Homo sapiens: one gene and its partner. The protein of the gene in region 1 interacts with the protein of each later gene in a pairwise test. Each region holds a gene or a part of one and is shown in the gene's direction. Other genes may lie near its edges.

Region 1 (16,221 bases):
AGGCAGGAGAATCGCTTGAACTCAGGAGGTGGAGGTTGCAGTGAGCTGAGATTGCTCCATGCACTCCAGCCTGAGAAACAGAGCAAGGCTCCATCTCCAAAAAATAAAAATAAAAATAAAATAATAATAATAAAACAAATAAAACACAAGGAACCCAGTTCCTTCAAGTGCAACCCATAGGACTCTTAATGTGAGAGCTGCAATAGATTCCCACTGGGAGAGTTCCTTGAAAGGAACCATGAGCCCAGTATGCCCATACCTTTGTATGACTTTTAATACCACATCCCAGCTCTGCTTCTTGGTTCGCTGGGATATTCCACATGCTGGCAATGTCTAAAAACAAACAATTACCTTTGCAAGCTACCACATGGTCACTGAGAGAGACAAAAGGGAATTGCCGCAATGAGATGGCTTTCATCTCTCTTGCTATTCAGAAGGCTGATTTTGTTCACACATGAGAGAGAGAAAAATGGCAAAAATGGGAAAGGGGGTGGGGGATGGAGGTGGGGGTAGGGAGATGGAAATAAGTTCCTTGTCTTCTAGGAAAACACCAAGTTGCATGTCAATCTGAAGGATAACCCAAATTGCAAATCCAGGATATTTCACAAGATGAGAAAGGCCTTAGCCATTTTCATTTAAATTCCTATTATATATTTTTACGAAGAGAAAATATCTATGCACAATTTGAAAACAGTGTTATATATAAAATATTTAGTCCTTTTAGTGTATCTTTAAGAATATATAAAACCTCTTACTTGGAGAAAACATTAAAAGCATAAATTTAAACATTTCATAATACTGCAATATTTTTAAAACACTTATAAAACACCTTCCAGAAAGGTTTGCATAGACAAAAAAAAAAAGTTTGGGAAACGTTGCATTACATTGCATTTTGCAACAGTCTTCCTGAATATTGGCAGTGCATATTGGCGTACTAAAGACTCCTAGAAGACCTACAACATAGAAGTTGGCTTAACTTTGCTTACTTAATTGTTTCTCAAACCTAATGAATCAAAACGCCATTTTCTTCAAATATAAAGTGGATCAAACTCACAATTAGGGAAGTGTTGCTCTATGTAGATCAGTGTCCAATTTCTTTTACTTTCTCCATCTCTCCCACTCTCAAGCCACATCTCTCAACCTCTTTCCCAAGCTCCTCTCACCTTAACTCTAAGATGCAACCCATAACCTGGCAATCACTGGATCATGTCTTGGGATATTGCCAGTGGCTGTTATACATCAGCTCTGATCTGAAGAGAATCCATGTACAGCTAAGAGAATAAACAGCTCCATTCCCATTCTAGCTGATCGTCTCCCCAGGACACCAGGCAAAGTTGCTGCTGACTAAGGAGGCCCCCCTTTTTTTGTTTTTGTTTTTGAAGTGGACATCTTTCCTTTAGAAACTCAGCACTGGCTGAGGCACCAATTAATTTTGCATAAGCTGCTACAGGACCCTCAGATGCTAATCAGTTTGTTCATAACCACAGAGTATTGTTTTAGGGTCATGTACGTAACTTCTGCCTCCAGCCCTGTGGATTTATTTACTGCTTAGTCCCTAGTTCCTGCAGCTGTGTCCTTTCAATGACTGCTTTATGGTGGCCAAGAGAGTTGAGGTCGACTGCCAGGACTCAGAGATCTGGAGGAACACATGGACACATTATTCTTTTGCTCTGAAGCTATCCAATTCCTGTTCCGGTCAGAAGGGGAGATAGTGGGAGGATATCTCTGAAACTGCCCAGCGCTTACTGCTGATATTCCTCAGGTCTGACATTATTGCAAGAGAACAAACTTAGATCTACCCTCTGTGTGTTCTTCAGTGGAAGGTGAATTACTAACGAAAGTGTAATAATACAAAACACAATTGAGTGTAGCCTTGGCTTTATTTGTAAGACCTACTCTGGAGATATTATTTTCTTTACTCCAAGACTACACATTGGATCCAGTCTGCTTCAAACAAGAGACCGGGAAAGACGGGTTACTATGCTAATTGAATACTAATGAGGCCTTTGCTTAAGTTGGGTTTTGTTGCAATTATTTGCCACTACATTTCTTTTGTATTTATGTAGAGGGAAAAATAAACTACTTCAAAGTTAGCAAGAGTCTTACTTAGCCTGAGCACTTGCAGAAAAAATGTCTTGCTACTCTTTCTTTTGTACTTGTAACATTTGTAAAGAGTTTTGTTCGGCACTATGGAAAAGCAAAATATCATCATCATTATTACTGGCCTTTGTCCACAGTGGATTTCATCCAGATTCTAACCAGTGACTCTGTGACTAACAATCTGAGTCACTAAGTTTCAGATGTTTATGGATTTCAACACAATTCCCAGACTGAAAGGTTTTTTTTTTTAATTTACTTTCATGTTTCAAGACTCAGAAAGAATTAACTGCCTTTCTGTATTTCCAGTCTAGTGCAGAAAGAATTAAATGCCTTTCTGTATTTCCAATCTAGTGTCACTGAGTGACGGGCTAGGAACAATTCAGTGGATAGACTGAACTGTTCCTTCAATTACAGATTTGTATTGACAAAAGTCAATTACCAAAATGTCAAAAAAAAATTAGTATATACTTCCAGGACAAAAGCCTCCAGGCTGGCAGAGAATTCAGTGAATTATAAATATTTGTGTTTTCACCATGGTAGTGGCACAGGATGATTACAGAATTTAAAATGCAGAGAATCACGGTGATGGGAAAACTGAATATCCACATGTGGAAGAATGAAACTAGACCCCTCTTTCTCACCATATACAAAAATCAACTCAAGGCCGGATGCAGTGGCTCATGCCTGTAATCCCAGAACTTTGGCAGGCCGAGGCAGGCAGATCACTTGAGGTCAGGAGTTTGAGACCAGCCTGGCCAATGTGGTGAAACCCCATCTCTACTAAAAGCACAAAAATTAGCCGGGCGTGGTGGTGGGCGCCTGTAATCCCAGCTACTTGGGAGGCTGAGGCAGGACAATCACCTGAATCTGAGATGCGGAGGTTGCAGTGAGCCGAGATAAAACCACTGCACTCCAGCCTGGGCAACAGAGCAAGACTCCGTCTCAAAACAAACAAACAAACAAACAAACAAACAAACATCAACTCAAAATAAAGACTGCCATGTAAAACCTGAGATGATGAAACTGCTAGAAAAAAAACATAGTGGAAACACTTCATGACATTGGTCCAGGCAAGGATTTTTTGGATAAGACCTCAACAAAAAGAATGAAATCCTGTCATTTGCAACAACATGGATGAACCTGGAGGACATTATGTTAAGCAAGAAAAGCCAGAAACAAAAGGCAAATACGACATGATCTCACTTATATGTGGAATTTTAAAAAGTTGATCACATAGAAGTAGAGACTAGAATACTGGTTAGCAGAGTCAGGTGAAAGGTGGGGAGGAGTGGCAGGAGTAGGAGAAGTTGGTTAGTAGGTACTAGGTTATAGTTAGATGAGAGGAATAAGTTCTGGTACACTAACGCAGTAGTCTCAACCTTTTTGGCACCAAAGACCTGTTTTGTGCAAGACAATTTTTCCACGGATTTTGAGGGGGGATGGTTTCAGGATGAAACTGTTCCATCTCAGATCATCCGGCATTAGTTAGGTTCACAGAAGGAGCATGCAACCTAGATCCCTCCCATGTGCGGTTCACCATAGGGTTTGTGCTCCTGTGAGAATCGAATGCGGCTGCTGATCTGACAGGGGCAGAGCTCAGGTGGGAATGCTCGCTGACACTCACCTCCTACAGTGCAGCTCAGTTCCTAACAGGCCACAGGCTGGTACCAGTTTGCAGCCCGGTAGTTGGGGACACCTGCTGTATGGCACAGCAGAATGATATATTTAACAATAATGTGTTGTATATTTCAAATCAGCTAGAAGAGACAATTTTGAATGTTCTCACCACAAAGAAAAGAAAAATGCTTGAGATGATGAGTATGCTAATTACCCTGAGTTGATCATTATGCAATGTATACATGTAGTGGAATATCACACTGTACCCCATAGATAATATGTATAACTATTATGTGTCAGTTAAAAATAAAACTAAAAAAAAAAGTAAGTAAACACAATATAAACACCAAAAAAAAAAAATAAATAAAATGCAGAGAAACTACTGCTAAAATGTAATAAAGAGAATGATAGAAAAATACAAGTATATTGACTGGTTATTAACTTTGCAAAGATGCACATCTTTATTCTTATAGCTCTTTCAAAGGTATATTAGAAAATGGACAGTCTGACCAGGGCCTACTTGAGGGTGGAGGGCGGGAGGAGGGTAAGGATCAAAAAACTATGTATCAGGTGCTATGGTTATTACCTGGGTGATGAAATAATCTGTACACCTAACCCCTGCGACATGCAATTTTCCCAAACAAACCTGCGTGTGTACCCCCAAACCTCAAATAAAAGTTGGAAAGGAAAAAAAAAGAAAAGGAAATGGACAGTCTGAGCTAAAATATCCCTTTTTATGAAAAATCTCATTATTTTAATAATTTTATCATTTTTCTGTATTCATTCTCATACCAGCTCTAGACTATCCCTGGACTATAACTATCCCTGATTGGTCACCTTACGTCAATCTTTTATTATTATTATTATTATTTGTTTGTAGGGACAGGGTCTTGCTCTGTCACCCAGGCTGGAGTGCAGTGGTGCAATTATGACTCAATGCAGCCTCAAACTTCTGGCCTCAAGCAATCTTTCCAGCTCAGCCTCCCCAGTAGCTAGGTCTACAGGTGCCACGCTACCACACCTGGCTAAGTTTTTAATTTTTTATAGTGATGTGGTCTTACAATGTTACCCAGGTTTGGTCTTGAATTCCTGGCCTCAAGTGAGCCTCCTGCTTTGGCCTCCCGAAGTGCTGGTATTACAGGTGTGAGCCATGGTGCCTAGCCCCATCAACCTTAAAAGACAATTCCTTGTCATTTTCACATGGAATAATTTTACAAACATTTGGTCATACATTTTTACAGCATGTCAGGTTAATAATATCTTACAGTTTTATAGCATTTTGCAAAGAATTCTCTTGCATGTTATCTCACATTCATCTCATCATCATATGCAGTAGAGAATAAATGGGTGGCTCCATTTTATGGATGAGAAAATTGATGTATATTACACTGATATAATTGGCTTAGACTCATTGGCTAAAGTAACATGGATTGTTACAGAAAAATAGAGGTCCTAGTCCAAAGCTATTCCACTAGACATGTGATATGGTTTGGCTCTGTGTCCCCACCCAAATCTCATGTTGAATTGTAATTCCCAGTGTTGGGGGAGGGATCTGGTGGGAGGTGATTGGCTCATGGGGGTGGATTTCTCCCATATTGTTCTCGTTATAGTGAGTGAGTTCTCACAAGATCTGATGGTTTAAAAGTATGTGGCACTACACCCTTGCTCTCTCTCTCTCCTGCTCTGCCATGGTAAGACGTGCTTGCTTCCCCTTTGCCTTCTGCCATGATTGTAAATTTCCTGAGGCCTCCCAGCCTTGCTTTCTGTACAGCCTGCAGAACTGTGAGTCAATTAAACCTCTTTTCTTCATAAATTATCCAGGTCTAAGGTAGTTCTTTATACCAATATGAGAACAGACTAATACAACATGTAACAGAAATTTGAGGTTTAAAAAGAATTTTTGCCTCTAAATCCTCATAATGCAAGATTAAGAATAAAGCCTTGGACAGATGAGCTGTTATTTCTGGATACCGGTCTTTGCAAATACTATTTGGGTTATCAAGTATTATTTTGTATTATGTTAATGCTCTCCAAAGTATCGAAGTGTAATCAGACCGCACAAAGTATTATCAAAATATACAAAGATAATAAAATGAATTAGATTTTTAAAAACTATTTACTCATCATTCTGTGCCCTTTATAGGATGACCTATATAAGTCTATGTAGGATGTTCTTGAGCACACATTCATAAGATTCCTGTTGTCTTTCAAGCAAGTTACATTTTTCACTGTGAACTTGTTGGATTTTACGTTTAAACTAATAGCCTTTCTAAGGGAAGAAGATTTATCTACCATTTCCCTTACATCTTCCGCAGTGTCTAGGCTGGAACCAAAGTTGATGCTTTTTGACTTCTGTATGGCAACTACTCCTGTGACATATTTTGAAGTTCCTGGTACCCCCCAATCTGGCCCTGCACCCACACTGAGCCTCATGGCTAAGTTTTGATATCCAAGCAGTAAGATGGTCTAGTGGAATCCCCTAAAGCATGGGTCATGAGCCACCCACATCACACCCATCTGGTGTCTCTCAGCAGGTACAGGATTCTAGGTGCTTCCACAGATCTTCCCCACCCAGTGAAGCTGCATTAACCAGCTCCCCAGGAGAGTCTTGTGAACTCTAAAGTTTGATCATCATCCTAATGATAGCACTTTTCTGCTCCTGGAAATTTTAATGATGTTGCTTGTGAATATGGTTCCTGGGCCTGGTCTTTGAAAATGAAAATAAAAGATGGTGCTTGACTTTGGGGAAAAGAAGTGAGATGCAGACTACAAAAATGGCTCAAAACAACGCCCTCTCACAATTACTAGGAGAAAATGTTTACCCGTGTGCTGAGAAACAACACCCCCCATTTCTGTAAGGCAGTTGCCAAGCAGATGCCTGATTTCAGGGATCTCTGGAGCTGCACCCTCCAAGGCGCTGGCGCTTAGAAACGACATGAAGAGCCAGCCCTGCTGAGCAGGACCAGGGCGCCAAGTCTGAATGACTAATATTTTTCCAACCTAGAACGTCATTAACCGATTGATAACTATTTCCCCTTTAAACTAGGCAAAATCAGCATTCCTCTCCCCTCTGTGTGCCAGAATTCGAAGATGAACAAAAGACGCCTGCATCAGGAAAACTGTGTTAAGTTCTCTTGGATTCAGGGCTTCGACCCGAATTGGGCTGAGTGAATGAAGACGCTGGTGAGATGTCAGGGACCTGGGGAATGAAGACACACCCAGAAAAAGCAGGAACCTACAGGAGTGGACAAAGAACCGGAGCATAGGCATGTGAGAGGGGTTGAAATGAACAACAGACTCATACAAGAAGGATTTCTAATCAGAAAAGAGCGATTGCTTTAGTAAAGCTGCAACCTGGAACAATTACAATCTGACCAGATGTTCTTGCAAAACTGGTAAAGCAGAGAATGTGTAAAAATCTCTCCCCCTCCTCCCCTGAATGCAGTTGACGAAAGGCCGAAAGGCTGGATCCTCAAAGCCCAGATCTGATCACTGCAGATCCGGGCCACCCTAAAAGCAATCGGGTGTAATCTTTCCAGCTCCAGGCCCTGGGATGAGGGAGGTGGGGGAAGGTGGAGAAAGGTGGAGGAAGATGGAGGGAGGTGAGGGGAGGTGGAGGGAGGTGAGGGGAGGTGGAGGGAGATGAGCGGAGGTGGAGAGAGGTGGGTGGCGGCTCCAAGGTTTGAAAACACATCCAGGACACTTCCCATCCTCCAAGAGCACGCTGGCTCACAGGCTCTTTCACGCTTCTGCTTGGGACAATCGCGTGCATGAAATCTGGCAGGGAGGAGTCAAGGAGATTGTTAGCCCGAGGGCTGGGACGGTGGATCTGGGAATCAGGGGCCTGGGGGACACGTTCTCTTCCTGCCGCGGGCTTCCTGCTCCAGAGTCCCCGCGGGGCTTGGCGGCGGGGCCGGGGGCTGCACGCGACCATCCGGCAGGGGGCGGCGGCGACAGCGGCGGCCGCAAGGGACGCGTCCGGGGCCCGCGCTCAGGGGGAGCGGTAGCGGCTTGGCAGCTGCTCCCCGCGCCCCCGCGGCCTAGCCAGGGGAGGGGGCGCAGCGCCGGGGCCATGGATCCGCGTCAGGCCGCTGCTTCCCGCCGGCGGGCCCGGGGCGGGGCGGACCCGTCCCCGTCCCCGTCCCCGTCCCCGTCCCCGTCCCCATCCCCACGTCCCATCCCCCACGCAGCCTTCGCCCTCCCTGCTCCTTCCCGCGCCGTCTTCCCTTCCCGCGTTCCCCGGGAGAAACATGGCCGGGAGCAGCGAGGAGGCGCCAGACTACGGGCGAGGCGTCGTGGTAAATGCAAACTCCCTATTTTGGGGCTCGGCCCGCTCCCCTCCCTCCCTGGCACCCTGCTTGTAGATTAAATGCTTGCCGTGCGTCGGGGGAGAGAGAGGGCCACCGCTTTGTTCTCCCTCCCGGCGGGGATCGCTTCCATCCTCGGACCCGGGCCTCCTCTCCCCGCCCCCAATCTGACGAAACTCTGAGTCCCGTCCCTTCACCCCGAGTTCCCAGCGTCCCCCCGTGTCCTCCGGCCGGTAGCTCGCTCCTGCAGCGTCCCGCCGGCGCCCAGCCGTCCCCATCCCCGCGAGCCACGGGGAGTCGCTTCTGCGAGCCCGGCAGGGCCCCAGAGACCCCCGCGTGCTGCTCTGGAGGCCTCCTTCTTCCTGGGTCTCCTCTTGACTCCTCCAGGGCGGGCTTCAAGTTTTGTTTTTAAAAAGCACACTGAGGGGTTTTGAAGGCAGCTAGGAAATAAAGTAGCTCAAGTGGACAGAGCTTGAGATTTGAAGCCTTTGGTACCCAGGTTGGGGGCTCTCTGGCAGTGGAGGCCTCTGCAGGAGCTCTAGGACACGCTGGCGGCTCCTGAGTGACCTATGGCTTGTCTGTAAAAGGGAGCAACAGCAAGCTGGGCTCTGGAGCCAATTGGGAGGATGCATGTAAAATATCTAGCAGTGTGTCCGGATGGGAGGGTGTGGGGTGCTGGTTTCCCAGAACTGAGCCTCATTAACCCTGAGAATCCTGACGGTGTCAGCCAGAGGGTACCCATCTCTCAGTGTGCTAGGATCCAACCCGTTCTTGACCTTGTGGCCACGTCCTCCCTGCTCCCTGAGAAGTGGTTTTCCTAGAAGGTGGTGGTTATAACTTGTGTCAGGTTCAGTGTGAAACTCAATGGTGGTGAGGATGGTGGGTGGGGCTAACTTGCCATCTCTTTCCAGGGATCAGCTTGTCATTCACAGATAATCTGTTTATGAATATGAATGGCCTGAACTAAAGTAAGTGGGCTGGGGAGGGAAACGTGTCACATTCAGACAGAAGGGTCAGGTTGAAATGTGGGGCTCAGTGCTTAATTTAACAGCAGGACCTTTCCTTCTGAAAGGATGAGGAGTTGATTTATTCATTCCACACGTTTATTGTCCTGCTGGGTTGTAGGAGGTGCTGTAGGCTCTGGGGTGCAAAAGACAAAGGCCTTGTCTTCATGAGCTTGCGTTCTAGAGAAGACATAGGCAAGCAGTGTGTAAACAAATAGAGAAAATTTCAAATAGAGATATGTGCAATAGGAGGAGGGTAACAGGATAGAGGGTAATTGGAGGAGAAGGGGGGAGTGATGCTTTTGCTCAGGTGGTCAGGGCAGCCTCTCTGCGGTGACCTTTGAGCCAAGATCTGAAGGGTACACAGGAGTAGCCATGTGGACTGCAGGCAGAGACCCGCATACCAAATGCAAAAGAATCATTGTATCCGATTTATGCTTTTACAAAAACCATTCCAGTTGCCCCAGGAGGAGGGGCAAGCCTAGCGGTGTGATGGATGGGAGGGGGACTAAAACGCAAAAAGGGCAATCATTAAGTTCATTCTGGACAAATTGAGTTTGTAGTGCCTGTAAGGCCCACAGGTTGGCCTGCACTGTAGGCAATTTGAAATTCACATTTGGAATTCTGGAGAGTGATTGGAGAGATTTGGAAGTCATCAGCAAAAAGAATAATATGTAATGTTCGGGAGTGCTCAGTGAATATGGAAAAAACAATTAAAGCAACTGTTAAGGATGGAAGCCTGGAAAGTCCCAAATATAAGAGGCTGCCTGTGGGGGAGAAGCTGGTTGAAGGAACCGAGAAAGAACTTTGAAGGGTGGGAGGGCAGGCAGCATGGTGGGTGCCTTGGGAATAGAGCATTGTTGAGCAGGAGGGGCGGGGTCAAGAGGTCATCAGAAGTGTCAGATGTTACAGGGACAGCAAGTCGGATACCAAGATGGAAAACAGCCACTGTATTTAACAATTACAAAGCCATTAGTAGGGAGAATCTTTTAAACAACCACTGCATTGGTAGAATGGTTAAAATATAGTACAAGTTGAGCATCCCTAATCCAAAAATCCAAAATCCGAAATGCTCCAAAATCTGAAACTTTCTGAGCACCAACATGATGCTGAAAGGAGATGCTTACTGGAGCATTTTGGATTTCGGATTTTCAGATTAGGGATGCTCAACCAGGAAGTATAATGCAAATATTCCAAAATCCAAAGGAAAAAAAATCTGAAATTGGAAACGCATCTGATCCCAAGCATTTTGGATAAGGGGTACTCAACTTGTACTACCGTAACATACTACATACTTTTAGAAAAGAATAAGGTGAATCTAGATGCACGGATAGAGTAGGTAAATTGTTGAAGTCTAAAAAACAAGTGAGAGAACACTGTAAATAGCCCAGTCTATTGGTGTCAACAGAGGTCCTCTTGGAAGCAAGGTAATTTTTTGAAAGATGCAAAGAGGTAGTGAGAGGGGTATCAAGAGAGTAGAGGGCCAGGTGAGGTGGCTCATACCTGTAATCCCACCACTTTGGGAGGCCGAGGTGGGTGGATCTCCTGAGGTCAGGAGTTCAATAGAATCCTGACCAACATCGTAAAACCTTGCTGCTACTAAAAATACAAAATTAGCTTGGCATGGTAGTGCATGCCTGTAATCACAGCTACTTGGGAGGCAGAAGCAGGAGAATTGCTTGAATCCGGAAGGTGGAGGTTGCAGCAATCCAAGATTGCACCATTGCACTCCAGGCAACAAGAGTGAAACTCCTTCTTAAAAAAAAAAAAAAAAATAAATAAATAAATAAATAAATAAACAAAAAAAATGAGTATAAACTGGACCAGCTGCCAAGGGGCTTGGTGCTTGCATGAGAGCCCACAAAGGTGGGAAATAATCCACATATAATGGAGATAGTCCCTACATTTACATCCTTTTCTCCAGTAGAACTTGGAATAATTAGATTAACCTCAAGTTGGATATAAGCAGGCAACTTCAGAGCGAATCGAAGCTGCTGGTAGAAGGCAGCTCATGGCATGTAAGGCAGGAGGGAAGGGAGAGCTGGAGAGGATGAGTTTACTGGGAGAATAGAAAGCTCTCAAGGATGGGATACAAAAAATCAAATTAGTACCAGTTTTAAAAAGGGGCAGGTGGCTGGGAGTGGTGGCTCACACCTGTAATCCCAGCACTTTGGGAGGCTGAGAGAGCAAATCACTTGAGCCCAGGAGTTCGAGACCAGCCTGGGCAGCCAACCCTCTCTCTACAAAAAATACAAAACTTAGCCAGGCATGGTGGTGCATGCCTGTAGTCCCAGCTACCGGGGAGGCTGAGGTGGGAGAAGCACCTGAGCCCAGGAAGTCAAGGCTGCAGTGAGCCATGATCGTGCCACTGCATTCCAGCCTGGGTGTCAGAGTGAGACCCCATCTGAAAAAAGGGGCAGAGGGCAGGTAATAATAGCAAGCATTTCTTGAGCACAAATCTGTAAGGGAGGTCTAGTGTGCTCCCCATTTTACAGAAGAGGAAACTGAGGCACTGAGAGATTAAGTAAATCACCCAGGTCGCATAAGTAGCAAATGGCAGAAGCGGGATTTGAACCAGCTTTCAATCACTATACTACATAGCAAGCTGTGATTCCAGGATGGAATTTCAGGGTTGGGGCCATCTGTAGGACTGGTCTGGCTATGTGAATGTATTGCTAAATGGGGAATAAAGATGTGATTTGAGTTAAGAATGTAGTTTGAGCTAAGGCTGGTGAAGGAGCTACAAGATGAAGTCGTTGGAAAGATCGTTGAGGTAGGCATTGGAGTAAATCAGCCAAGGAATTGTCCAGGAATGAGGTAGAGAAGAAAATTCCGAGTTGGTAGAAATCTGTTGATAAAGATGGCAAGGGATGTAGAGTCAGATGATATAAATATAAAACGAGAAGTAAAGTTTGTGCAAGAGAAGGGAATATTAAGAGATTTAAGATGGCTCTTGCCTATAAATTGGCTTTTGGTTGAACTGGGGAGGTAGGACATTTATACCATTAACAATAAATGGTAGCAAATGCTAATTGCCACATAAGAGAGGTAGATCCTAAGGTCAGAAATTTTGCTCAGAGTTGGCTTGTCACTTGATCTGGAGCTAATACAGTCACCAGATTCCTGGTTGATACCTCTTTGTTACTTCTCAGGGAGAGATAAAGATCTTCTCTATCCACCTGGCTTTTGGGGATCGGGTTATTAGACATGTTTTTGTTTGTTTGTTTTTGTCTGGTTTGGTTTTGCCAAATGATTATCAACTGAGCTATTATTAGTACTTACCTAAGTGAGTTTGGTAGGAATCAGGAGAAGAGAGAAATCAGAAATGATTGTTGTGTTTCTGTTATGGCTGGCTTCCTGTCACCCCCCATGAAAATACGGCAGTATCAGAGATAAGTAATCAGGTAATATCAGAGATAAGTAATCCATCGAAAGCACAGCTCTACTAGGTGGTAATGAGTTTTCCTTCTGTGGGGCAAACCCACCACAGAAGAGGAAGGCATGTGGATAGGAGGTGGTTGGCCTGTCGAGCTTCCTTCATTCCTCTGTGAGCAGAACCTGGGAATCTTTTAGCAAACCACTTGTCCCCACTTTTCAAGATGTATGGTTGTGAGGTGGGGCCCTTCCCAGGGTACCTCCTTCCCTGGCTCTAGGGCTAGGACAGGAATCCCAGAATTCCTGTCTGGGATTCTTTGAATTAGAGTGAAGGGATGAGACCCCCTTTCTCTTGCTGGTGGAGGACAGATGAGAGCTATGGCCTGAAGGAGAGAACAGGGCCAATCTGTGGAGCTCAGCAGGGGAGAGGAGCAGAGATTAGCTTCTTGTATGTGTTTTCTCCCTTAGGGAGAAAAATGATGCAAAAAATAGTCTAAGCACAAAAAAAATTATTTTTAATGACTTACAAAGTTTTCAGTGCATCTTCAGTGCGAAAAAGAGAATCAGAATTACTTCTGGGATTTGGATGTTGCATAAAATGACTCACTTAATGGGTTTGTCACTTCCCCCAGCTTGGCTATGTTTTGCTGTTTTGAACAGAGAAAGCATTGTACTGAATACACTTAGAGCATATTATCTGTGATACTGAAACTATCTACAGACTCTGGTTTTGATTTTTTAAAAAGCAAGTGAATAACAGTTATCTACAGTTCATAGCAACCTCCATTCCTGCAGGTTTTGATTTATTTACAACACGATTTGCATGCACCATTGAAGTTAGCAAAGCATAAACCAGTATTTCCATCGTCTTGAATCGACTTTCATCTCAACAATGAAAACTCACTATTTAAGATTAATTGAAAATAATGGCCAATTTGGATTATAGAACAGTTTTAGAGAAATATATTTCTTCTACTTTTATACTTTTTGTTTTGTTTTCTTGAGACAATCTCACTTTGCTACCCAGGCTGGAGGGCAGTGATGCGATCATGGCTTACTACAGCCTTGACCTCCTAGACTCAAGCCATCCTCCTGCCTCAGCTTCCCAAGTAGCTGAAACTACAGGCACACGCCATCACACCAGAACAATTTTTTTTTTTATTTTTTGTAGAGATGGGTTCTCATTATATTACCCAGGCTGGTCTCACACTCTTGGGCTCAAGTGATCCTCCCACTTCAGCCTCCCAAAGTGTTGGGATTACAGGCATGAGCCAATGTGCCAGGCCTCAAATGTATAGTTTTAACTAAGATAATAACACTGGCATATAGGTTTGAGGCACTTCTTTAGATGAATTAAAACATATAATTTGTTGTTAAATGATTGATGTTTCAGTTCATCTAAATGATTAGCATTTATTGCATAAGTACTGTAGACCAGAAACTGATATGAGTCTTACATTCATTATCTTATTTAATGCTCACCATAGCCATATGAGGCAGGCACTAACTCCATTTCATAGATGAATACACTAAGAGAATTTAATATGCCCAAGGTCTCATGGCTGGCAGGCTTGTCCCAGGTGTGTGAGATTTCCATGTCCATGCTCTTAACACACTACTCTGTGTGGCCTCTGGGCTATGGATCCATATTACAGTTTATAGGTTTGTTTCATTTGTGATTTTCTTATCATTTTTTTCCTATTTTTGGCATTCATTTTTGGCACTTTTAGTCTGTTTCCTTTTTTTGGCATTATGCGTCAAACATCATGTATTATACACCATGCAGTGTTCCAGGTATTCTAAGTACATTATCCTTATAATAACCCTATCCATAGGTTTTACTGTGTCTTATTTAAAGCAAGGGGAAACTGGATCTCAGAGACAGTAAGTCATCTCCCTAACATCACAGTAGTAAGTGTCAGAGCCAAACTCTTGAACATGGAGTGGAGAGTATGCTCCAAGATTCAACCAGAACGGGGGCAGTAAAGGATTGATGTGGTTGGAGGAATGGATTCAGAAGACCACTAGTTAATGGTGCCACTGGTGGAGGAGCTCCAGAAAGTGGGGTAGATAGTACATGTGGTCTGGAAGGTGATCCAGAAAGTGCTGTACACCTGGATGATCCCCCTGGGGCCTGGGGCCAGTCAGGGTTCTCCTGGTCTGGTCTTTACTGTGGCCTGCCAGAGGCTCTCCTAGAATCTCCTCATGTACAGCTGGTAGTCTAGACTCTGGCCAGCTGCTGTAGTGTTAGAGGTTATAGCAGGTACAAGGAGTTCTCAGGGTGGCAGCCAGAGGAGCTTGGTGCAAATCCAGCAGTCCCACCGGCCAGTTTGATGGTAGAGGGAGAGCAAACGAGACACTTTTCAAATCAAATATGCAGATTGACCAGGCATGATGGCTCACACTTATAATCCCAGTGTTTTGGGAGGCCAAGGTGGGAGGATCCCTTCAGGCCAGGAGTTTGAGACCAGCCTGGGCAACATAGCCAGACCTCGTCTCTACAAAAGAAATTAAGAAAATAAGCTGAGCGTGGTTGTCCACTCCTTATCTCCAGCTACTTGGGAGGCTGAGGTGGGAGGATCGCTTGAGCCTAAAAGTTCGAGGCTGCAGTGAGCTATGATTGTGGTACTCCACTCAAGCCTAGGCAACAGAGGGAGATTCTGTCTCTTAAAAAATAACATAGATGATATACACCATGTGGCCATCAGTCAGCCAATGGATATGACACATTGGAATCTCCAGAACCTTGAACAGTGGTGCTCTTTATCACAAGGAGACAAACTGAGAATTCAGGTTGGAGTTCAGGTTTTCAGGTAGCCGGAAGATGGAGACTGTGTCATCCATTCATTCATTTAACATTTTTGAGCACTATACCATATTCCAGATCAGCATTCTGGGCACTGAGGGATTCAACAATGAATCAGAAAAAGTCTCCGCCAGAAGGAGCTCATGTTCTGACAGAACACACCCATGCACACACACATCATCCAGTGGTAAAACAGGCTATGAAGGTCAGGGAAGGCGTCTTTGCAGAGGTGACATTGAATGGAGACTTGAAAGAAGTAGAGGACAGCCATGTGGAAATCTGGAGGAAGAGTGTTGCAGGCAAGAGGAGGCGCCAGTGCAAAGCTCAGGAGGCAGGGGTGTGATTGGCAGATCGGAGGACTTGAAAGAGAGCAGCTGCTGAAGCAGAGGGAAGAGGAAGAGTGCCAGGAATGAGTCAGACAAGGTAATCCCTGGTGAGCCACAGTGAGGACTCTGGTCTTTACTTGGAGTAAAGTGATAAGCCCTTGAAAAAAATCTAAGCAGAAGGCTGCCATGATAGGATGTCCTTTGTTTTTTATTTTTATTTTTCGAGAGACAAGGTCTTGCTCTGTCACCCAGGCCGAAGTGCAGTGGCACAGTCATAGCTCACTGCAGCCTCGAACTCCCGGGCTCAAGTGATCCTCCTACCTTGGCCTACTGAGTAGCTCGGACTACAGGCAGACACCACCTTGCCTGGCTAATTTTTTAATTTTTTGCAGAAACAGGATCTTGCTGTGTTGCTCAGGCTGATCTCTAACTCCTCGCCTCAAGAGGTCTTCCCGCCTCAGCCTCTCAAGTGCTGGGATTACAGGCATGAGCCACTGTACCTGGCTGTGATGTGCATTTTTAAAGGAGCATGCCCGCTTCCATGTGGAGGGGCTGCAAAGTGGAAGCAGGGAGGCAAGTGTAGTGGCTCCTGGGACAGTCCTGGGAGAAATCATGGTGGCAATGGACTGGCCTGGGGGTGGGGGAATAGCAGTGGAGGTGCCGAGAGGTAGTCCTGGATAAATTTC
Region 2 (16,304 bases), about 95 Mb from region 1:
TTGCAGAAATCAAGCCCTTTTACCCCTAACTGCTTGTCAACATTTCCTAAGAGTACTGACTTTCTCATATATAATTAGAGTACAGGTATCAAAACTAGGAAATTTGCCACAAATATACAATACACTAATCCACAATCTATACTTAATTTCACTAATTGTCTTAATCATGTTCTTTCTTACACGTCTCCCTTCTGCATCCCCCAGTCCAGGGTTCAGAAGCTCGCTCATTCTCTATTTCTACTGAGTTCATACTGTATTTCTGATTCCAGTTCAGCACCACAGGTGTCGTTCTGCTTGTTCTCCTTTCTGTATTAGTGTAACTCTCTTAAACTTGATTCCCATTTTTCACAATCTTATCATTTGCACATTTTTACAACATAGAGAAGGGAATTTCAGAATTGTTAACTCATACCTTTACAAAACATAAACCTAAATAACTAGAGTTCAATCTGAAACAGTCCTCAGCCTTTGTCTTTCATGGTCTTGCCACTTTTTTTTTTTCCTTAAACAACAGAAATATATGTCTTCCAGTAGTTCTGGAGGCTGGGAAGTCCAAAATCAAGTTCCCAGCAGATCTGGTTTCTAGTGAGGGCCCGCTTCCTGGTTTACAGATGGCTGTCTTCTCACGTGGTAGAGAGCAGACAGCCTTGATGCTTTTGAAGAGTGTAAGCCAGTTACCAGTTACTTGTTTCCTCATGGTTAGACTCAATGTTTTGCATTTTTGGCAGGAATATTACAGAATTGATGTATCCTCAGTATGTTACAGCAGGAGGCATGCGATGTCAGTTTGTCCCTTTACTGGTGAGGTTAATTTTCATTAGTTGGTTAAGGTGGTGACTTCCAGATGTCTCTTCTGTAAAGTTACATTTCTCACTTTGTAATTGACAAGTAACTTGGAGGAAGGTACTTGGGGACATAAATATCCAGTTTCTCATTAAACTTTCACCAATTTATTTTAGCATTCATTGATGATTCTTGCTTGAATCAGTTATTACTTTGTTGGCAATTTTCTAACGCAGTACATTTATTTATTGGCATTCTACTATAAAAGATACCTCTTCCATTTGTTTATTCAAGTAATGTATTTACTTATATTTAGTATAGACTAATAGATTCTGATTTTATTCAATGTTAATATCATTATTTTATTTCGAGACCCAAATTTTCCCAGATTTGGCTAGTGGGAGCCACTTTAAGCAGGTGCCGGGTCCTTTTTTTGAGATGATGTTATCATTTTTTAACATTTATTTTCTGGCATATTAAGCTGTTGCAGCTTCATCGTATGCTTTGAAGATCTGAGTCCTAGATGTGCTCGTTGGTACTGGATTAGATTTGCATCTAGGCCCTTAAAGTAGACAGAGCTAGGATACATGCAGCATATGGATACATATATACGCACCCACATTTAAATGCACACATACACACTCACATGCATGTTTTGTGTATTTCTAATGTCTGTGAAAAACCATGGGTTCATATTTCTGATTCCAGTTCAGCACAGCAGGAGTCACATGTTCTAGTTGTTCTCCTTTCTATATTTATGACTTCTTTTTCTAACAAATTTGATTCCCATTATTCACAATCTGTTGTTTCCCCATTTCTACCATATACAGAAGGGAATTTCAGAATTGGTAACCCATACCACTACAAAACAGAAACCTAGTAATTAGAGTTCAATACATTTCCAGTTCATTTTTATTTTAGAATGCAGCTGTGTAGTCAGAGCTATGTTCCACTTACTCAGGTAACTTTTCTTCCCCTTCAGTGTGATTTCATTATTTATTTTACTTAGAAAGATTCTCAGAGGTGTCATTCTCGGCTATCCCCATTCCTGCTGTCTGTTCCCACCCAGCCTCCTTAGGGAACCACAGTTTCTGGTTTATCCTTCCTGTATTTATTTTTTTACAAAAATATGAAGATACGTATACATTTTATTTCTACCTTTTTCTTCTATAAAAGGTAACATGGTATATATACTCTTACACTTTTTAATTTTTTTTATTAACAACATATCTTGGAAATCTAGACCTTCCTCATTCATTTTTGTTTTGTTTTGAGATTGCCAAAAGCAAGGGCTGATGTCCCTCATCTACACCAGAGTCCTCTTGTTGAATACCGGACATTAATCATCTTAGTTTCTGTGTAGGATGAACTTAACATTTTTCACAGTTAAAAAAAAATGGTACAAAACAAAAATTTTAAACAACTTTAAATAAGCTTAACCGTCCCTTAATAATAGTATATGAGATTGTTCATCTTGGCAATTTCTGATTGTGATGACTTTCCTGCTTTAGTTACTTCACTATTGATGTAGTTTAGTTTAGAGGTTGTATTAGGGGTCTCTAAAGGGTCAGAACTGATAGGATAGATGAATATATGAAGGGGAGTTTATTAGGAGAATGACTCACATGATCACAAGGTAAAATCCCACAATAGGCTGGGGAGCAAGGAAGCCAGCCTGAGTCCCAAAATCTCAAAAGTAGGGAAGCCACCAGTGTAGGCTTCAGTCCGTGGCTGAAGGCCTAAGAGCTCCTGGTGAACCACTGGTGTAGGTCCAAGAGTCCAAAAGCTGAAGAACTTGGAGTCTGATGTTTGAGGGCAGGAAGCATCCAGCATGAGAGAAAGGTGGAGGCGGAAGACTCAGCCAGTCTGCTCTTTACATGCCTGCCTTTATGCTGGCAGCTGATTAGATGCTGCCCACCCAGACTGAGGGTGGGTCTGCCTCTCCCAGCCCGCTGACTCAAATGTTAATCTCCTTTGGCAACACCCTCACAGACACATCCAGGAACAATAATTTTCATCCTTCAATCCAGTCAGATTGACAAAGTATTAACCATCACAGAGGTTAAGAGCACAGACAGGCAGGCAGCCTGGGTTGGAGTCCTGACTTGGCCACTTACTAGCTATGTCACCTTGGGCTTGGTTTCCTCATTGTAAATAAGGGTAGATGTGAGGTTTTGGTGAATTTGTACGTGTAAGGCATTGAACGTTGTCTGTCACATGGTACGTACTATGGAAAAGGTTATTATGCTTGTATTAAAAAATACAGGAGTATGAATTTATTACTTCAGTGTCTATAGATTCTATAAAGTCAAGATCTAAAAGATTAGCTATTTGTTTTGGTCGTCTCACAAATCTATCATCTGCAGATTTATTTAGCAAGTCTGAAAAATTCATACTTTCATTGCTTGTCTACTCAGTCTTCGAGGGATCATGTAAGAATTAAATTTAGGAAAAACAATTAGCAAGATAAGAGATGAATGGATTCTCCACACGCTGAATAATAGATACCAGATGGCTTTTGAGAAAAAGACCCCAGTTTTTGAGATCTGCTGTCAAGTATTCGATGTCCCGGCCAATAGTTCAAGGAGTACCTGTGTTTTGAAATAGCCTTATGAGTGACATCCTACATTCCATTTATTGAAGTGCTGAATAACAAATATTATTGTTTCTGGCCAGGCATGGTGGCTCACGCCTGTAATCCCAGCACTTTGAGAGGCCAAGGCAGGCAGATCACTTGAGGTCAGGAGTTCGAGACCAGCCTGGCCAACATAGTGAAACCCTGTCTCTACTAAAAATACAAAAATTAGCCAGGCATGGTGGTGTGCACCTGTAATCTCAGCTACTCAGGAGGCTGAGGCATGAGAATCGCTTGAACCCAGGAGGCAGAGGTTGCAATGAGCCAAGATCGCATCACTGCACTCCAGCCTGGGCAACACAGTGAGACTCCATCCAAAAAAAAAATAAAAATAAAAATACCGTTCTTGAAAAATTGAATAAATGCATTATTTCATGATATGTCTTAACAAGCCTGAAGTCTGTGTGATGTAACACTTTAGAATGAGAGGCCACTTTCTGTTCTTTAAGGAGATGTACAGGTGGAAATATTCTTGGCTTTAACTCTAATTTTGTTTTCCAAGATGCACATTATTTTTGCATCTGTGCAATTGATGTCTCTCTAAATTGAAACTTTATCACCTCTCCACAGGGATGCCTCTGCACTGCTGGATCCGATGGAGTGCACAGACACAGCAGAGGAGCAGAGAGTACACAGTCCTCCTGCTTCATTAGTGCCGAGAATTCATGTGATCTTAGCCCAGAAGTTGCAACACATCAACCCATTATTGCCTGCCTGCCTTAACAAAGAGGAGAGCAAAACCTGTAAGTGTAAGTGTTACAGCCTAGTCAACTATCGACTGTTAGCCTCAGTGTGTCCAGAGCTGCCTGTAACGTGCTCATAGTGGAATTGAGAGTCAGGTCTTCATTCCTCACAATAAGTGTTTTCAGTAATCTCTCTCTCGTTGCCCCATTTTTCTCTTACATTAATTCTCTTCACTGAAATGAGGACAAAAGAGTATACAAGGCTGGGTGCAGTGGCTCACGCCTGTAATCTTAGCACTTTAGGAGGCCAAGGTGGGTGGATCACCTGAGGTCAGGAGTTCGAGACTAGCCTGGCCAATATAGTGAAACCCTGGCTCTACTAAAAATACAAAATTAGCCAGGTGTGGTGGCGTGTGCCTGTAATCCCAGCTACTCGGGAGGCTGAGGCAGGAGAACTGGAGGCAGAGGTTGCGGTGAGCTGAGATGGCACCATTGCACTCCAGGCTAGGCAAAAAGAGCAAAACTTGGTCTCAAAAAAAAAAAAAAGGAGGATGCAAACTGCCTTATTTTTAAGATTAGCATCACTTACTGACGGATATGTTAAGCTTTACCTACTGTCGACTGAATTGTGCTTTGCTCACGTAGTTATTTTTTTACCTAAGACACTTGAGAGGAACTGGAGTGTGTGTCCTGACTCAGGTCTTCCTTTCTCCTTCAGTTGTTTCAAGTTTCATGTCCGAATTGTCTCCAGTCAGAGCAGAACTTCTTGGGTTCCTTACTCATGCCCTTCTGGGGGATAGTTTGGCTGCTGAATACCTTATATTACATCTCATCTCCACAGTGTAAGTGCTGTATCCTGGTGGGAATTAGGGGAGTTTGGTGTGTGTGGAAGTGGAAGAGCGGGAAGATTGCTGGTGTCATTTGTGTGTTTTCCTTATTGGGCTTCATCACATGGTTTTTATCTGTCCAGTGTTAACTGTTATACCAAATCACAGACAAATTCCTTTTCTCACAGTTCACATTTAGCATTTTGATTATGTCCCCTTAAATTTTAGAGCCAAAATCAGATAAAGCAGTGGTCCCCAACCTTTTAGGCACCAAGGACCCATTTCATGGAAGACCATTTTTCCATGGACCGGAGTGGGGATGGTTTCAGTATGAAACCGTTCCACCTCAGAACATCAGGCATTAGTTAGATTCTCATAGGGAACACACAGATGTGCAGTTCACAATAGGGTTCGCGCTCCTGTGAGAGTCTGATGCCACTGCTGATCTGACAGGAGGCGGAACTCAGGCGGTAATGCCCACTCATCCACCCCTCACCTCCTATGTTGTGGCCCGGTTCCTAACAGGCCATGAACCAGTACTGGTCCACGGCCTGGGCGTTGGGGACCCCTGAGATAAAGGACCTGGCTGATGAGTAAAATGAGCTGTTTTATCCCTTTTGCATTCTGAACGCTCTGTTTATACATCCCAAGGCGCCCACGTCATGTGCACGTTTAACGTGGACATTGACACTAGCACCGCATCCCTTGACTCCACTGTATTTCTTTGTTTCTCATTTTAAAACTAGTGTGGGCCTTTGACAAGTTCCAAGAACATAAGGAGGAAAATGCACATCATCTGTAATTTCACCACTTAGAACCTCCGTTAACCTTTAGGTACATGTTCATTGGTTTTTGTTTACATATGTATACATCCTTGCATAGGTCTTAGTTACACTCTAAGCACAGATGCGTGTCTTGTTTTCAGCAGTTGATATATATTAAACATTTTCCCATCATAATGCTTCATGAACTTTGTAGTGGCTGCAAAGTATTTCACTATGCAGTTGTACCATACTGTAACCATTTCCCTAAATGTTAGCTTTTCCTAGCTTTTCTCTATTATAAAGTTGCAGGAAACATCTTTGTGCTGTAAATCTTATCTTTTCTCAAATCAGTCTGTGACAGTAGTACATAATGGTTGAGAGCACAGGCTCTGGAACCAAACTACCCGGATTCATATCCCAGCTCTGTCAGCTTCCATTTAGATGAACATGTTGCTTATTATCATCTCTGTGCCTCGGATTTCTCATCTGTGAAGCAAAGACAACAGCACCTACCGCTGAATGGTTAGGGGTTAAATGAGGAAGCATTTACATACTCAGAACGGTCTTTGGCACGTGACCAGCAGCACTTACGTACAAATATTGGCTATTACTTTTATTGCTGTTATTCTGATAAAATAACTGGTCAGAATATTCTGGTTTATTTTTAATGACAATATTAAGCTAATTTTTCTATTCTTCGCTATTTGATAGAAATCAGGAAGTCACTTCAGCATCTTATTGATTGATTTCTTTCTTTTCTAGATATACAAGAAGAGATGTCCTTCCACTAGGAAAATTTACAGTTAACTTGAGTGGTTGCCCACGGAATAGTACCTTCACAGAACACTTGTATCGAATTATTCAACATCTTGTTCCAGCAGTAAGATGAATATAAATATGTATTATAAACCTAAGCACACTTAAAAAATCCATCTAACTGTCTTTCATTCACTTCAAATATTTAACTTAGAGATTTTAATAGATCTTATTTAAGGGGAAACAAAGCCTGCCAAATTACATAATTTAAAATGTACGTTCCCCTAAACATTTCACTTTTTTTTGTCTTTTTGCCTAAGCACAAATTTCTGTAAGTCTAACAAAACAATTGTAGTAACTCCCTTAAAATTACACTCTCTTGATACCAATTTGTCCAATTTGGTATCCTTTTTGTACACTAAAGTCTTAAATCTAAATAAACTCTAAATTGTAGGAGCATAATTCTTTTAGTTGAGGTAATAAAGTTCTTTATCTCCATTGCCTCAATTTTAATTCCTGTTTGGAAAGTTGAGCTCACTTTATTTGCCAGGGTATCTGGAATGCAGTATTTGCGTGGTGGTAGGATCTTGGGAACAGGGGAATTGCTTCTGATTAGTTGTGTGACTGAAAATACTGATCACTTCTTTGGAAATTGAAGAGGGTGCACTAGATCTTTATTGAACCGAATGTATTCAGTGTCTCAGTGCTAACACTCGTCCAGGCCCTCAAGAAGCAGAAGTGGACTGGAATATACCAGCAGTTCTCAGTCTCCTTAGACTCACTTTACACTCTGAAAAATGTGTTCATACTCAAAGAGCTGTTTTTCACGTTATGATTATATTTATCATTAATTTACCAAACTAGAAGATAAAGTAAATACACCTATTAAAAATAAAAAATTACATATAAATATTTTTATAAAAACAACTTTTCCCAAGCCAAAAATGATTAGTGATAAAGGTGACATTGTTTTACATTCTTGCAAATCTCTTCAATGTCTGGATTAATAGGAGACAATGGATGCTTGTATCTGCTTCTGCCTTCAGTCTATTGTAGTCTCAGGTTTTGGTTGAAGTATATGAAGGAAAGCTGGCCTCACACAGATGGAAAAGTAGATGGTAAAGGAAGGATGGTTTCGATAGCCTTTGCAGATAACTGGGTGGTGGTCTTTGATACTAGACCAAAACTGTCCACATGAGATTTTCTTAAAGATAGTTAAGTGTGGAATCTGAAATCCTATTCGTAAACTTTCCATAGTCTGCTATGGTAAAATTCATTAGTCTCGCACATTGAAAGGATCTTTTATCCATGCATGATTTTGACCTGATTGACCCTGTAAAAGGGTTTAAGCAATTCCCTGGGGGTTCTCGGGACCACATTTTGAGAATTATTGAAACAGATCCTTTGCCCTCACAGAGTTTAGGTAGAAGACCAACAAATAAATTAATACATGGTAGGTCATTTAAGCACCCCTAAGCTCCCCGTTTTCTTAGAATCACTGAGGTAATACACAAAACTCCTCTAAATTTTCGCAATATATCTTACCTCTTCCTTGACAGCCTTCCCCCACCATACCCTCTTCTCCATCCCTGCCACATTGTTTGAGGCTGGAGGGATGGAAGAATGGATTGGTGTATAAGGCAGAGCACAGAGGGTGTTGGGAATGGTGGCTCAAGAGCTGGAGGAGGAGCATAGATGGTTCGCTTACTCGTTAAACACTGAGTGAGAAGGTGCTCGCGTCCTGGAGGCACCTCCTGAGAGCTGCAGGTCCATCCACAGCTCAGTGTGCTCTGCTCCTTGATTTTTCTCTGAAAAGTTTGTTCAAAAATGTCTATGATAAATGAATACAATTTTAACTCAAAGAATATAGAGGAAAATTAAGCTTTTCTCTCCCTGTCTTGAAGAGTAAAATTAACATTTTCTTTTTGCTAGCTAGCTTGTGTTAGGTGAAAGAGGTTAGGTTTTGGGGTATTTAATATTTATATGTCAGTTATCTACCATTTGTTTCATTGGTTAAATTAAAATTGATTTTCAAGAATATTGAACAAGACATTTGAGAATAAAGTAGCTCATAAAATGGATGAAATTCAAATGTAAGATCTAGATACTATTTTTGCTTCTGGAGTTCAAGAAACCATATCACTACTCCCTTAGAAATTTATAAGATCACTTTTTCCATATGAAACACAATGTTTAATTCCAAGTACATATTTTCTTAAAACAGGGAAACTTAAATTCTTGTTCACTAAAAAATTTCTCTTTGCAGTCTTTTCGTCTGCAGATGACTATAGAGAACATGAACCATTTGAAATTCATTCCCCACAAAGACTACACAGCCAATCGCTTGGTCAGTGGGCTCCTCCAGCTGCCCAGCAATACTTCCCTTGTAATCGATGAGACTCTCCTGGAACAGGGGCAGCTGGATACCCCAGGTACGTACATAGATGTTTCTCTTCCATTTCTGACTTCCTTCGCACTAAAGCCAGATCTAGGAATAACTTTTAGAAGAGTATCTATGGACAAATTCACATTTAACAACGTAAGATAAAGGCTTGGCATATGAATTTGATTAAAGCATATGTTATAAACTAATTATATACACCAACTATGTTTTGCCATAGTATTCTGAAAGTAGTACAATGGAACAGATATATATCTTATATAATATATCTTATATAATATATATCATATATAATATATAATGTCTCATTTAATATATATCATATATTATATATTTTATATATTATATAATGGAGCAATAATATAAAGGGTAGTATTAGTATAATGGAGCAGTAATATAAAGGGTAGTATTAGATGTTGAGGGTCGTAAGGGTTCTTTGGTGAAAAGTTTTATTGTGTCAGCGAATGGTTGGAGCAGTCTTTATGGGCCTACAGTGTTGGGTTCTTTTGCGTAGTTGTATATAACCTAAAATTTTTTTTTCAGTGAGTGTAAGGAATGGTAGAGACAGGGTCTCGCTATGTTGCCCAGCTGATCTTGAATTCCTGGGCTCAAGTGATCCTCCTGCCTTGGCCTCCCACAGTGCTGGGATTACAGGTGTGAGCCACTGCACCTGCCCCAAATAGCTTTTTAAAAAGCTGAAATGGGAGGAAGCTTTGCCTTTAGTCATCTAATACCTCAAAAGGGAAGTGTAGAAAAGATCTAATATAATTTTTTTTTTGTTTTGAGACGGAGTCTTGCTCTGTCGCCCAGGCTGGAGTGCAGTGGCCAATCTTGGCTCACTGCAACCTCCAACTCCCGGGTTCACACCATTCTCCTGCCTCAGCCTCCCGAGTAGCTGGGACTACAGGCACCCGCCATCACGCCTGGCTAATTATGTTTTAACCTCCCGTTGTAAAGTTTGTAAATGGTTTTCAGAGAATGTCTGAGAAATAATAGATCAAATGGTTTGCACTAACCTCAGTTGCGGAATATATTATAAAATCACAAGAAAGCAGATTGTTTACCAGTGCTCAAATGAAGACAATTAAGAATACACTGCTGGCGATCAGCTCAAGAGGTAAAGGTAGAAGAAAAAATGAGGTAGACTGGGCATGTTTAAGGCAAAGGGGAATATAAAATCTGTAAAATTCACTAGGCTGATCTATGTATGACGGTAGTTTTAGTGTTTCCTTGGTTTAGCCCTGTAAATACACCACTTAGAAATAATCATACTTGGGAACTATTTTATGTCTAGGTGCATACCAGATGCTAGGTATTAGATTTGCGGGGGTATCGCCTGCCCCCAGAAAGTTCTACCTTGACCAAGACTGTTGTAAGCCTACACACTTAGTGACGTTTAGCTTAGTAAACTGGACAGCGCCTCATACCCTTTATTAAAAGTGGTAGAAACTTCATGGCTCATCATCGGTGTCAGCAAAACTGATGTGTTTAGATGATTAAAGTCAAATGACTGAAAGTGTTTTCCTGCCTTTGTAGGTGTTCATAATGTGACAGCCCTGAGCAACCTCATAACGTGGCAGAAGGTGGATTATGACTTCAGCTACCATCAGATGGAATTCCCCTGCAATATTAACGTTTTCATTACTTCGGAGGGGAGGTCACTCCTCCCGGTATGATGAGTCATTTTTAAATGGAGGGAGGTTGACATTGGAAAAATACCTACATTTTTGCTGTTTCTTGGTACCGCTTATTAATAAGTTACATTTGTTGTAAAAAAAAAAAAAAAAAAAAAAAAAAAAAAAAAAAAACTGTGACTGCTGATCATTAAGGGAATTGAGTATTTTGCACTGCCATGGATGAAAACCTTACATCTACCAAGCTCAGGTATCAGCAAGTCATGAGACCAGCAAGGCTGTTGGCAGCAGAAACACCCACATCTGAGCATAGCGAGATTGCCTGATTTTAACATCCAGACTTCTGTTCTTGCTACCTTTGACCCATTGTTTTCTGCTAATCTTATGTGAAAAATATTTCAGAGTTCTTTTAAAATGTCCTTGGTCACTTGGTAGTTATTTTCATGCTTTGTGGTGAAATGCTCTGGTATGTCTTCAGAGTGGCTGGTAAAGAGAGCTTTTAATTCTGTGGATGATGGGAAATGCTCCCAGTTGTCAAATGGTGTGTAGTCTCTGAATAATAGTATTCACCTGCGATTGATGAGAAACCGCCTTTGACTAAGAATGAAATGGCTCAAGGATATGTTTTCTGTGTGCAAGTATTGATAGACCTTTTTAATTAGCTGCTTTTTAGAGGTTGGCTACATTTTTGTGTGCTTACTGATACCATTGAGGAAACATAAGTAACCAAGAAAAAGCTTTCATAATTATTTCTGAGGTAGTTATAAAGCATGTAAATTAATATTAAAAATAGATGCTCACTGGCTGCGGTGGCTCACGCCTGTAATCCTAGCACTTTGGGAGGCCAAGGCAGGTGGATTGCGTGAGCCCAGAACTTTGAGGCCAGCCTGGACAACATGACGAAACTTGTCTCTACAAAAAATCCAAAATTAGTCAGGCATGGTGGCGTGCACCTGTGGTCCCACTACTGAGGAGGCTGAGGTGGGAGGATCACTTGAGCCTGGGAAGCAGGTTGCAGTGAGCTGCAATCACACCACTGCACTCCAGCCTGGGTGACAGGACAAAACCCTGTCTCACACACAGAAAAAAAAACATTATTCCCTCCCCCTAAATAATAAGTGGTATTTTCTAATTCCCATAGGGGCTGACAGAGATGATGCATCTTTCTTTAAAAATGTAGATTAATTTAGGAACTCAGAAAATACAGTGTACTCCTTCTCTTTTCAGGCAGACTGCCAGATTCACTTACAGCCCCAGCTAATTCCACCAAACATGGAGGAGTACATGAACAGCCTTCTCTCAGCGGTGCTGCCTTCCGTGCTGAACAAATTCCGCATTTATCTAACTCTTTTGAGATTCTTGGAATATAGCATATCTGATGAAATAACCAAGGTATGTCTAGGTTAAAATAAAGGATTTCCCTGTGTTGAATTGCAGTATGCAACCAATTTACATTTACCATAATTACTGATAAGGTAATTTTGTTATTTGTTTTCTGTCATGTCTTTTTTTATTCCTCTGTTACTCCATTATTGTCTTTTTGTTTGAAATAGGTATTTTCCAGTGTCCCATTTTAATCCCTTGAAGTTTCTTAAAGTTATTTTCTTAGTAGTTGTCTTTGGGGGATAAACTTAACATGTTAGTATAATCATCTATTAGGGATTAATGCCAGTTTGTTTAGTTATTTTTAATTTAAAAAAAATTTGTGTGGCTAATGCCATTTTAATTATATTATACAAAGACTTTGCCCCTTTATAATTCCGTTCCTTCTCCTCTCCCTTGTGCTCCTGTCATACAATTACCTCTCAGTACATTGTATGTCCATCAACACATTTAGAATTACTGCTTTTGCAGTTGTCTTTTAGAGAAAAAAGTTAGAAATGGAAAAGACTTCTGTACTATTTTTTCTATTTGCCTATGCAATCACTTTTACCAGCACCCTTTATTTCCTCATGTGGGTTCATGTTACTGTCTAGTATCTTTTCATTTCAGCCTGAAGAACTGTCTTTAGTGTTTCTTGCATGGCAGGTCTACTTGTGCAAATTCTTTTTTTTTTTTTTTTTTTTTTTTGAGACAGGGTCTCGCTGTGTCATCCAGGCTAGAGTGCAGTGTTGTGATCATGGCTCACTGCAGCCTCAACCCCCCCAGGTTCAAGCGATCCTCCCACTTCAGCCTCCTGAGTAGTTGGGACCACAGGCATGTGCCACTGTGCCCAGCTAATTCTTTGTTTTTTGGGTTTTTTTGTTTTGTTTGGGTGTGTGTGTGTGTTTGTGTGTGTGCAGATAGGGGATCTCTTTATGTTGCCCAGGCTAGTCTCGAACTCCTGGGTTCAAGTGATCCTCTCTCCTTAGCCTCCCGAAATTCTGGAATTAGAGGTGTGAGCTACCTCGCCCAGCCCTCTTTTAAGTTTTTGTTTATCTGGGAATGTCTTAATTTCTCCTTAAGGCTAGTTTTGCTGGATGTAGAATTCTTGGTTTATAGTCTTTGTCTCATCATTTCGAATATGTCCTCCCACCACTTTCTGGCCTCTGGTTTCTACTGAGAAGCCAACTAGTTTCTGATAAGGATCCTTTGTACACACTGAGTCATTTTTCTGTCACTGCTTTCAAGATTTTGTGGCTTTTGACAGTTTCGATTATGATGTGTCTATGTGTGGATCTCTGAGTTTATCCTACATGGAGTTTGTTGAGCTTCTTGGAGGTGCAGAATAATTCATATTTTGGGGAAGTTTTCAACAAGTTTGGGAAGGTTTTGGCCATGTTTCTTTCTGCCTCATTTCTCTCTGCTCTCCTTCTGACACTACCACTGTGTATCTGATGTTGCATTTAATGGTATCCCACAGGTCTTCAAGGCTCTGTTCATTTTCCCTCATTCTTCTTTTTTTGTTCTGTTTCTTAGACTAATCTCAGTGAACTTATCTTCAAATTTAGTGATTTTCTTCTGCCTGATCAAATCTGAGCACCTCTAGAGAATTTTTACTATATTTTTCAACTCCAGAATTTTTATTTCCTTCTTCTAAAAAATTATTTCTCTCTTTTTATTGATACTCTCTATTTGGTGATTCTCATATTTTCCTGAAGTTCTTTTTATGTGGTTTCCTTTATTTCTTTGAATGTTTAAAATAGCCAATTTAGAGTCTTTTTGTCTAATGTTTGAGTTTCCTCTGGGACAGTTTTCTACTGACTCCCTTATCCCCAAAGTGTGAGCCATACCTTCTGGTTTCTTTGTACTTTTTTGTTGAAAACCAGACATTTTATTTGGTCAGTGGGGTCTCACTGTATCACCCAGGCTGGAATAGTAAGTAGCACAGCCACAGCTCACTGCAGCCTTAAACTGCTGGGCTCAAGTGATCCTCTTGCCTCAGTAGCTGGGACCATAGGTGTGCACCACCATGCCCAACTAAAGTTTTGTTTTTTTGTTTTTTCTTTTCTTTTTTTTTCTTTCTTTTTTTTTTTGTAGTGATGAGGTCTTGCTTTATTGCCTAGGCTGGTCAACTCCTGGCTTCAAGTAGTCCTCCCACCTTGGCCTCCCAATGTGTTGGGATTACAGGTGTAAGCCACCACATCTAGCCACAACCAGACATTTTAAATTATATAATATGGCAACTCTGCTTTGGAAGTTACTCTGGAAATTAAACCTCCCTAGGGTTTATTGTTGTTGCTGTTTGTTACTGTTGGTAGGTTGTTTAGTAACTTTTTTGACTAATTCTATAAAGTCTGTATCTTTGTCACATGTGGGCACTGAAGTCTCTGCTCTGTTAGTTTTGTGGTTAATGATTGGAAAGAAATTTCCTTAAATGCTGGGTAGTAGTCTCCCAGTCTACGGGTGAATAATAATCATAAATAAAAATAAAAGTTGGGGCAAGCCCTCAGTTCAACACTTAGCCATGCAATTTACAAGCCTTAGCCTTCATTTCCTGCTCGCACAGAGCCTCCAGGTCATGCAGAGGTGGGAGCTATGGTCTCTGAGCATGTCTGCAGCCTTCTGAGTTCCTAGGAGTTACATACTTAAGGTTTTCAGAGCCCTCTACAGACATGTCATTTCCCAGCTAGCTTTTCCATTGAAGGGTTTGGGTTAGTCTGTCTGCCGCAGCTGTTACCCAGTGTCTCAGGTAGCTAAGGTGATTGGTAATTTCTTCCGATTGTTTTTGATAAATGCCCTGGGGAAAGAGGTGGTTCATAGTAGACAGGCTTCCAGTCAGGTTAAATAAAGACAACCTTGCAAATGGGTCCTTCCAGGGAGCCACCAGACAGGTGGTCAGATGACAGTTCTCCGGGAATGGCACTTGGAAGGAGCCCTAGCCCTGTTCTCTCTCCGGTGGCTGCCAGGCTGTTGATTTTTGAAGCTACTAATTATCGCCTGGAGGGGAAGGGGTTGGAATTTAGGAGTAGGACATGTTAAAATGCTGCCAGGCTCAACATTCTTACCAATAATCACCTGGTTTTCTTGCATAAATGCTCTCTGGATTGCTGCAAGTATGGTTTTATTTCTAGTTTTTAAAAAGCTGATTTTGATCAGTGTTAACAGTAGAGACAGTTTTCTGCGGTCCCTTCTCTGCCATTTTCACTAACATCACTCTTCCTTTGTGGAAAAGCATTGTTTCCTATGCCAGTTGCTGATTTATATGTTTGCTTGACCTTAAATGAATCTGAGTTTCATTATTTTATTTTCATCAGCAGCATTATGTATGTATATGCTTTGGTACTTTCACCCATATTGCCTCCTTTGTCTAAGAGGCTGACATGCACCTTACTACATCAGTCAAGGAACCATGTTAATTTTCTTTTCCTTACAAAAATGCACATCATTTACATTTACTCTTTTGATAAAGGCAGTTGAAGATGACTTTGTGGAAATGCGGAAGAACGACCCTCAGAGCATCACTGCTGATGATCTTCACCAGCTGCTCGTGGTGGCTCGGTAAGTGGCGCACGTCCATTATTGCTGTTTCGGTAAGCTTGTGTATATGTCTTCTGAGTTATTCAGCAGTAACTGAGGCAGAATTCTAAAAACGGAAATGAACTTTTCCTTTTAAAAACGCTGTATGAAAGGGCTCATTGAGGGGGAATCGAGTTTGGCTGGTGATCTCTTCAGTGGAACAGGCATGCTGCTTGTTCTCTAAGCTTCAAAGAGTGAGCCACTTTCCAATTCTGACTCTTCAACGATTTCTTTTTAGAAGCCTAACTTGGCTGTTGACTTGTGTGTAACTACCATACGGTCTTGTCTCCTAACGTGCTCTGTGTTTTCACAAAGTATTCCTAGGTCTTAAAAAAAATTTAAAACTTACTATCCCAGCTCTAGACTTAAATTTGTTTCTGTGTTTCAAACCAGGTGTCTGTCTCTCAGTGCTGGTCAGACAACGCTGTCAAGAGAACGATGGCTGAGAGCAAAGCAGCTAGAGTCTTTAAGAAGAACGAGGCTTCAGCAGCAAAAATGTGTGAATGGAAATGAACTTTAAAGATGTAATACCTATGAAGAGTAATGGGCAAACTGTAGCCACATAATTGTAAAATTCAGATATTCATTTATACCACATTGTTTTATAGGTAATTTCTATCACAAACCAGTGACATTTCCTGAAATCAAGCCTGGTAACACCTGATGTTTATATGATATTCAGTAAGGACTTTTACCTTACTGATTTCATGGAGCTTTTGAAGTTTGTTTTATAATAATTATATAAATTAGTAATGATGTAAAAAAAGTATTTGATATTAAAAGTTTAATATTGATAATGTTGCTGATTGTACCATTTCCTTAGCTTCAGCTGAGTCATAGGCCAGACTGTTGAAATGCTGAAATGAAGAAGGTTGTTGCAGTT

Evidence for each region.
Region 2: the proteins of PRTFDC1 (region 1) and MCMBP interact in binary tests that used the Homo sapiens proteins (3 or more experiments, as listed by UniProt).

Annotation. Positions count from the first base shown.
Region 1 is NC_000010.11:24,944,322-24,960,542, reverse strand, and holds the start of PRTFDC1 (phosphoribosyltransferase domain-containing protein 1), read left to right. Parts: upstream 1-7,936; 5' UTR 7,937-7,967; coding exon 7,968-8,015; intron 8,016-8,094; exon of another isoform or gene 8,095-8,179; intron 8,180-16,221. UniProt on the Homo sapiens protein: Has low, barely detectable phosphoribosyltransferase activity (in vitro). Binds GMP, IMP and alpha-D-5-phosphoribosyl 1-pyrophosphate (PRPP). Is not expected to contribute to purine metabolism or GMP salvage.
Region 2 is NC_000010.11:119,831,111-119,847,414, reverse strand, and holds part of MCMBP (mini-chromosome maintenance complex-binding protein), read left to right. Parts: intron 1-3,988; coding exon 3,989-4,161; coding exon of another isoform or gene 4,162-4,167; intron 4,168-4,819; coding exon 4,820-4,943; intron 4,944-6,454; coding exon 6,455-6,572; intron 6,573-8,714; coding exon 8,715-8,880; intron 8,881-10,385; coding exon 10,386-10,519; intron 10,520-11,710; coding exon 11,711-11,875; intron 11,876-15,314; coding exon 15,315-15,403; intron 15,404-15,814; coding exon 15,815-15,941; 3' UTR 15,942-16,304. UniProt on the Homo sapiens protein: Associated component of the MCM complex that acts as a regulator of DNA replication.